2 linked regions of the Homo sapiens genome follow. The protein of the gene in region 1 interacts with the protein of each later gene in a pairwise test. Each region holds a gene or a part of one and is shown on either strand. Other genes may lie near its edges.

The links.
Region 2: the proteins of NOM1 (region 1) and NGDN interact in binary tests that used the Homo sapiens proteins (3 or more experiments, as listed by UniProt).

What each region holds. Positions count from the first base shown.
Region 1 is NC_000007.14:156,966,510-156,970,424, forward strand, and holds part of NOM1 (nucleolar MIF4G domain-containing protein 1), read left to right. Parts: intron 1-451; coding exon 452-583; intron 584-2,577; coding exon 2,578-2,687; intron 2,688-3,019; coding exon 3,020-3,194; 3' UTR 3,195-3,915. UniProt on the Homo sapiens protein: Plays a role in targeting PPP1CA to the nucleolus.
Region 2 is NC_000014.9:23,467,391-23,471,305, forward strand, and holds the start of NGDN (neuroguidin), read left to right. Parts: upstream 1-2,312; 5' UTR 2,313-2,325; coding exon 2,326-2,337; intron 2,338-2,651; coding exon 2,652-2,711; intron 2,712-3,515; coding exon 3,516-3,587; intron 3,588-3,915. UniProt on the Homo sapiens protein: Part of the small subunit (SSU) processome, first precursor of the small eukaryotic ribosomal subunit.

The sequences.
Region 1 (3,915 bases):
ATATCCCCGTCACCTGGTCCACGCTGGCTGCCAGGCCACCTTCACTGGGAGCGGAAGTGGGAGGGCTAGAGGGGAGTGTCAAGGGTCCACCATGTCCTCATGTCACCTGCTTCTGCCACAGATGCAGGCAGTGTGGCCAGGCCAGCAGGAGCACCTCGTCGGTTCACAGTGCACCAGTCTGTTCTGATGCCCCTTGCTGTGGCCTTTTCCTTAGAATGTTCTGTTAGTATCTGCTGATTTGGGGGGAAGAACTGCACCAGAAGGAGATTCTTGTGAAGCTGTTTGGGACTATGCTCTATAGGCAAGAACAGTGAGGCCACCACTAAAAGTCTTGATGTTTAGAATATTAAAAATAAGATAATAAGAAAATACCTTTAGGTTATGTTGTTAGTGATATATTATAGTAATTTGTGGCCGTTTGCCTTTTTTCTCCTTTTAACTATGATACTAGATGACTTTCCAGTTCAGCATATGGGACAAATTTCGGGACTTGGAAAACTTGCCAGCTACGAATTTCTCTAATTTGGTTCATCTGGTGGCCCACTTGTTGAAGACAAAATCGCTTTCCCTTTCCATCTTAAAGGTTCGTGTAACGTGTGAAAATATTGAAAGCAATGGAAATGGGAGTGTAATTGTTTAGTACCTGGTAAATCAGGTCCTGTTTTACCAGCGTATTTTCTTCGATTCTGATTCATCTGAAAAGTGCTTGCATTATCCTAGCCAGGACAGAAAACGGCCAGACTAACATGTGCTACAAATTGATCTGGTAAATGAAGGCACCGCTGCAGTTCTTTTGCTAATCTGAATGAATGTGTTTTGGAGCTTGAGGTTAATTTGCTGGTCCTAATTATAAAATCCTGAACTGGTCACTGTTAGTGAGGAGAAGGGCGGATGAAGTAGGGCCTGGTCTCCTTAGAGGTGAGGTGAGTTTGCTCACGTTGATGTAAGGTGTTTTAAAACTGTAGGCTTTCTCCTGCCCTGCTGTGTTTTGGGACTTTGCAGTGGACCATGAAACACAGACATCTTTTTTCTTCCCCCCCCAAGATGGGAGTTGCTCTGTCACCCAGGCTGGAGTGCAGTGGTGCAATCTCTGCAACCTCTGCCTCCGGGATTCAAGCGATTCTCCTGCCTCAGCCTCCCAAGTGGCTGGGATTACAGGCTCATGCCACCACGCCCAGCTAATTTTTGTATTTTTAATAGAGACGGGATTTCACCATGTTGGCCAAGCTGGTCTGGAACCCCTGACCTTGTGATCTGCCCTCCTCAGCCTCCCAAAGTGCTAATATTACAGGTGTGAGCCAGTGCGCCCAGCTGAAACCTAGACATCTTACCAGGTGGAGTTGGGGTTAGATGTGGGCCTGTAAGGCTTGGATGGTGGGACCAACAGACTCTGAATAGCCAAAAAAAAAAACTGGAGCGCCTGGGGGGCAAAGGGAAGTGAAAAGCAGAGATAGTTGAGGGGCGTTGACTGCAGTGGCCCAGACCCACAAGACAGCCGCAGCCACAGCTTCCCGTGTGTTTCTGTGTGTCGTGTGCAGTTCATCAGCATGCCGGCTCCAGTTCACCCTGCGTCCCTTGCTGTGTGGTGTCCAAGTTTGGCCACTGTACTGAAAATGAGGGCACCGAGCCTTACGCCAAATCCTGACAACTGGAATAACTTAGCTCATGGAGGAGGCGTTGCTCCCCCTCCGCTCCCCTGCCTTGCCTTTCGCTCGCCCAGGCATTGCGCTCATCCTGGAACAGCACAGATGCTACCACCGATGAGCGGGAGAGGCGTGGCAGGAGCACACCCTCAGGCGTAGAGCTTTAGAGATGCCCCCCGCCCTGCCCCTCCGGGCTGCTCTCATTCCGAGTTTCTCTGTGTTTCGACCATGCTTTTGTGGTCTCGCCGCGTCCTCGGGTCCGCAAGCGCCTGTGATGGTGTTTGGCTGCGCACCTCCCTGTGGGTAGCATTCCCGTCACCATGCGTTTAGTCCCCTCCTCTAGCTCGCTGACATTCAGCTAAGATTGCAGTGGGTCCACGTTGGCGCCCGTGAGTCTGTTCTGGGTAGCATCCTACTGTATACGTATGCCTCAGTTTATATACTTACTTATCCTACTGATCCGTGTTTATTTCTGATTTTTTGATAGTTTTCTAGGGCAGAGATATATATGGATTAGTCTTCTAGAAGTAAATTTTATATATATATATATATATATATATATATATATATATATATATATAGTTTTAATTAGGGGATGGGTACTTTTGGGAATGGAGGTAATTTATGGTTCAGTTCTAGATACTGAATTTCTGATTCATAAGGTGTATGACCCGGGAATTCCACTTACACTGCTGAGTTGTTCTCAACGGTGGCTGTGGCCGGCCACACCTCTGCCAGCAGTGTGTAGGAATTCCCAAGGCCCACATCCTTGCCAACAGGTGTTCATTTCTTAGCTCTGGAAATAGCTTCTTAAATCGGGTAGAGTGGGGGAAGGGGGGAGATTAATTTTTACTCTAATTAACTATATTACAAATCATTGAAAAAGTTGGCTAAATCAGTGTAACTTTATTTTTCTCCATGTCCTGACCATTAGGTAGTTGAATTCAGTGAATTGGACAAACCCAGAGTCCGTTTTTTACGAAAAGTATTAAGTATCCTATTAATGGAAACAGAAGTTGAAGACCTCAGTTTAATTTTCACAAGGTATGTGCCCCACCCTTTCCGACGAGACATGGAAGAGAAATGAAGAGATTGTTTTCACTTGTGTTGATTTACAAACACAAGGTTGTACTATACGTGTAGCTTAATCTTTTCGGTTTTATTTTTAAGCTGGTATGCATTAGATCTGGGGAATAGAAACTTGTCTGCTAGCAAACTAACAATGATTGTTAATAATAAAATATGTTAAGAAGTTCTTAATTGAGAATTTTATTTTTAAAAGAAACTGGTTATGTCTCACTATGCGAGATACCCAGGATTGAGATCTAGGAGAGGCCAGCTCAGCCCTGACATGTGTTTATACGATTCCTTTCCAGAGTATCTGACAACCCAAAGCTGGGGGTGTTACGTGAGGGTTTGAAGCTTTTCATCAGCCACTTCTTGCTAAAGAACGCACAGGCCCACAGAAGCGCCGACGAAGCCAACGTGCTGAGAGAGAAAGCTGACCTTGCAACGAAGTGTCTGCAAGGAAAAGCTTCCCTGAGAATGTAGTCAGGGAAGGAAGGAGGGCAGGTGGCCCTTTGACTGTAAAATGTCCTTGGTAAACCCAAAGGCTTATTCTGTTGCCTGCGTGTGAATGTTTGGTAGAGCTATATCATTGTCTGTTAATGTATTATATTTTGAGATTTTTTTTGATCTAAGGTTTTATTGTTTGTATTTCAAGCCATTTTCAAATAACTATCTTGGGGGTGAGAGGAGAAGGAGGGAGGGAAAAGGGGTCAGGCACACTGGACAGGGTTCTCTAAGCAGTGAGGCTGGTGTGTATGATTGTCTTAAAATTTTTTAATAGATATGGCCGAGCGTGATGGCTCACCCCTGTAATCCCAGCACTTTGTGAGGCCAAGGTGGGCGGATCACTTGAGGCCAGGAATTTGAAACCAGCCTGGGCAAAACCCTGTCTCTACTAAAAATATAAAAATTAGCCAGGCATGATGGCACATGCTGGTAATAGCAGCTACTGAGGTGGCTGAGGCACAAGAATTGCTTGGACCCTGGAGGTAGAGGCTGCAGTGAGCCAAGATTGTACCACTGTACTCCAGCCTGGGCTGGACAGTGAGACTTTTGACAGTGAGACTGTCAAAAAAAAAAAAAAAATTAATAGATAAAACAGGCCACTAGAGGGTGCAGTTATAAAGAAATTGATGAGGTTTTTACCTTTTTAAAATATTGGTTAGAAGTTCAAAAACCATCCCTTAAAGGTGATTGTTTTTTT
Region 2 (3,915 bases), on another chromosome or scaffold:
TGGGTGAGGAAAGGTATCACACTTTTCTGCCCCTATAGTTGACAAGTATTTTATTTTTTTAGAGATGGGGTCTCCCTCTTTCACCTTTTTTTTAGAGATAGGGTCTTGCTCCGTCACCCAGGCTGGAGTGCAGTGGCACGATCATGGCTCACTGCTGCCTTGACATGGGCTCAAGTGATTCTCCTGCCTCAGCCTCCAGAGTAGCTGGGACTACAGGTTCAAGTCACCGTTCCTGGTGGACAATTATTTTAATAATCAAGGCCGGGAGCAGTGGCTCATGCCTGTAATCCCAGCACTTTGGGAGGCCGAGGCAGGTGGATAGTGAGGTCAGGAGTTTGAGACCAGCCTGGCCAACCATGGTTTAGTAGAAACCCCGTCTCTACTAAAAATACAAAAAATGAGCTGGATATGGTGGCGGGTGCCTGTAATCCCAGCTACTCAGGAGGCTGAGGCAGGAGAATCGCTTGAACAGGGAGGCAGAGGTTGCAGTGAGCCAAGATCGCGGCACTGCACTCCAGCTTGGGCAACAGTATGAGACTCCGCTCAAAAAAAAAAAAAAAAAAAAAGGCCGGGCGCGGTGGCTTACGCCTGTAATCCCAGCACTTTGGGAGGCTGAGGCGGGTGGATCATGAGGTCAGGAGATCGAGACCATCCTAGCTAACATGGTGAAACCCTGTCTCTACTAAAAAAAAAAAAAAAAAAAAAAAAATCAGCCGGGCGTGGTGGCAAGTGCCTGTAGTCCCAGCTACTCGGGAGGGCGAGACAGGAGAATCGCTTGAACCCGGGAGGCGGAGGTTGCAGTGAGCCGAGATCGCGCCACTGCACTCCAGCTTGGGCAACAGAGCGAGACTCGGTCTCAAAAAAACCCAAAATATGGCAGTGCAATTTGTTTTCTCATTGCTATCATAAAGCATATGAACAAACTAAATTTCAAATTCCCCGAAAAGGAAAAGTTTATTGCTGATCTAATTAGACAGGTCCGAAAATTTATGTAGAAATAGAAACTTTTCATAATACAAATCTTGATAAAACATTACAAAAGCTACTGGATAATTGACTAAGTATGCTGCAACAGCATCCTGAGCTTCCACAGTGGGCCTGAAGCAGCAAATTAAATGTTAGAGGAGTGGGGACTGAACACCCTCCTGCCTTCTTGAATCCAGCAAGATCTAGATACCAGGATTTCCTTACCTCACCTGCCCAGATACAGGTGTTATTCTTAATTCCAAAAGACAGCTTCAAGTCGGTAAGATCTGATTTCTAGACCCAGCTCTGTTGGACGAGTTGTGAACAAAAAATTATACACTATCATTCACCCTTTCGGTGCTTTATTTCCTAAGGCATGGGATGGGAACAATGAGTATCCGTCCAACCTACTTCACCAGCTTGTGAAAAACCAGAGTGAGAGAACACATCTGAAAGCACTGGGTAATGATGAGGCAGGTTATACTGAAACATGCACTGCCAGAGTTTGAACCAAGTTCTGCTGAAGACCTGTGTGACCGCGGTAAGTCATGTAAATATGAACCGTTCCCCAATTTGTAAAACGTATTCTTTTCATGTCCCCAAACTGGTAGGAGCGAAGAGTGTCGGGGCGTTATTGGAGCCGTTTCTCAGCGCTCCACAGTGCACACCAAGAGGGCAGGTGTCCTCGCACTCGGTTTCTAAACTCTGGCTCTGGGCTTCTCTAGCCTCGCTCTCTTATTTACAGATGAAGAAGGCTCAGAGACCGAGTGACTTGTCCACGGTCACACAAGGAGTAGTGTTACAGAATCGATTCCAGGGCCACCGGGTCTGTAAGGCATTTGGCGCGGTGGCCGTTGGATGAGCAGCCAGCAATGGCGGCTCTGCAATGTCGACACCGCAAAGCCAAGCCAAGGCCCATCACCTAGCGGCCGGTTCACGCACTACAAGAAAAGTGCCGTGAAAAAAGACTCTGGGTGCTGCGGCAGACGGGAGCCAATACGCGCTAAGTTCGCTCTGCTAATTCCTTTTTTCTATTGGTCCTTCCAACTGTCAATCAATTATTTGACTGTCTCTTATTGGCTTGCCGTCAATCATTTTACTCAGTCTACCAATCACACGCTCTTTGCCAAGTGCTTTTTTTCGTCCTGACGACTCTTTCTGAGTCTGACGAATTTAGCCAGTTCCTTTATTCCATTGGCCAGATCAGACTCCTCCTCTCGTTTATCCTGTTGGGGGCGGAAGTGAGAAAGCCCTTATTCGTATTGGCTTAGATTTGCAAGCGGCAGTTGTCTATCAAATCTATCAAGTCGCCCTTAGCGCTCAGGAAGTACGACACCGGAAGGGGTGGGCTTTGCGAAGATGGCGGCGCTGGTGAGTTTGGTGTGGTTTCTTCCTCGCGTAGCTATTGTGGAGTTGTCCTTTGCCTTCAGCGGCTGGAGGCAAACTGTTGGTACCAGGGAAGGGTGGTGATGAAAGTTGCTTCAGGGAGGCGGCCTCCCTAGAGTTACCGTTCCTGTCCGGTAACCCAAGGGGCTGGCTTTAAGGCGAGTCTGTGAACCCGAGTGTGAAGGCCCCGAGTCTGGGTGTCTGACGGAGAGAGGGCAGTTTCCCACCCTAGACGTTCCACTTTCCTATAATCCTGAGGAAAGAATGACTTTTCTTTACGCCTCCTCTCCCTTCTGTAGGGGGTGCTGGAGTCCGACCTGCCAAGTGCCGTGACACTTCTGAAAAATCTCCAGGAGCAAGTGAGTAGTGTCGCCTCTGGAATAAATTAGTCACGGATTGGCTTTGAGTTTGTGTACTTCACCTCAAAACTTTGGTGATTGAGATACGTGAATGCTTCCAAAAACCTTAGAGTAAAATGATGTAATCAAAACCTTTTCACGCCAGAATTCTAAGTAATTGATTCTGCACCCAAGGGAATACAAGAAACTCCAAAAAGAAATTATATGAATAGTTTTCCTTTATTCATATAGCTAAGGAAACCAGTGCTTGGAATGGTAACATGACTTGCCCTTTGGGTGCCCAGGTAATACACACTTATATACAGATGCTTCTCGACTTAACGATGGAGGTTATGGCCTGATAAACCCATTGTAATTCGAAAACCTCATAAGTCGAAATTTAGGCTTGATGCCGCTGCCCAGCATCACGAGAAAAGGACGGTTTCTACCGAATGCATATTTCTTTTACACCCTCGTAAAGTGGAAATTAAGTCATAAGTCGGGGAGTTATGTAGTTCTATGCATTGTAAGTTCAACTAGTACAAACAAAATTACAGTGCTTCAGTCACTACTCTCTCAGTCCTTTTCTCCTCCCTGTGGTTCAGTAAAAGATGGTCTCTTCTTTAAGAAGTGGAAAGTTTTTTTTTTTTTAAACTTTTTGAAGAACCATCTCTCCTATGCTTTCCGAGAAGTGAGAAGATAGTACTATACTTTAGACAGTGTTTCAGATAATTTTTAGGTGGCATTGTTTAGCTTTTGCTCTTCACAGTTTGCAGACATAATTTGATATAATCTAATCACTTGTTTTATTTGGGCTAATTTCAGGTGATGGCTGTAACTGCACAAGTGAAATCACTGACACAAAAAGTTCAAGCTGGTGCCTATCCTACAGAAAAGGTAAGATGTACTCAAACAGTAAGCATCCCCTGACTTAATGTTCTCAGTAGTTCTTTCATTGTATGTTTATTGTGTCTTATATATCCTAAGTGCTCGAGCTTCAAACATAAATATGATCCAGTTTCTGTGCTGAAGTCTAGAGGGAAGACAAAGCAAAGCAATAGATGTAAGTATTAATAGTAGCAGTCACATTACAGAGTTATGAGTCTCCAGCCAAAGAGAGGGATTAATTAACTGCCAGAAGAGCAGAGGGATTCAGGACAGGCTTCCCAGAGGAGGTGATAGGATTTTGAGGAATAAATGGGAGGGACAGAAAGAAGGAACATGT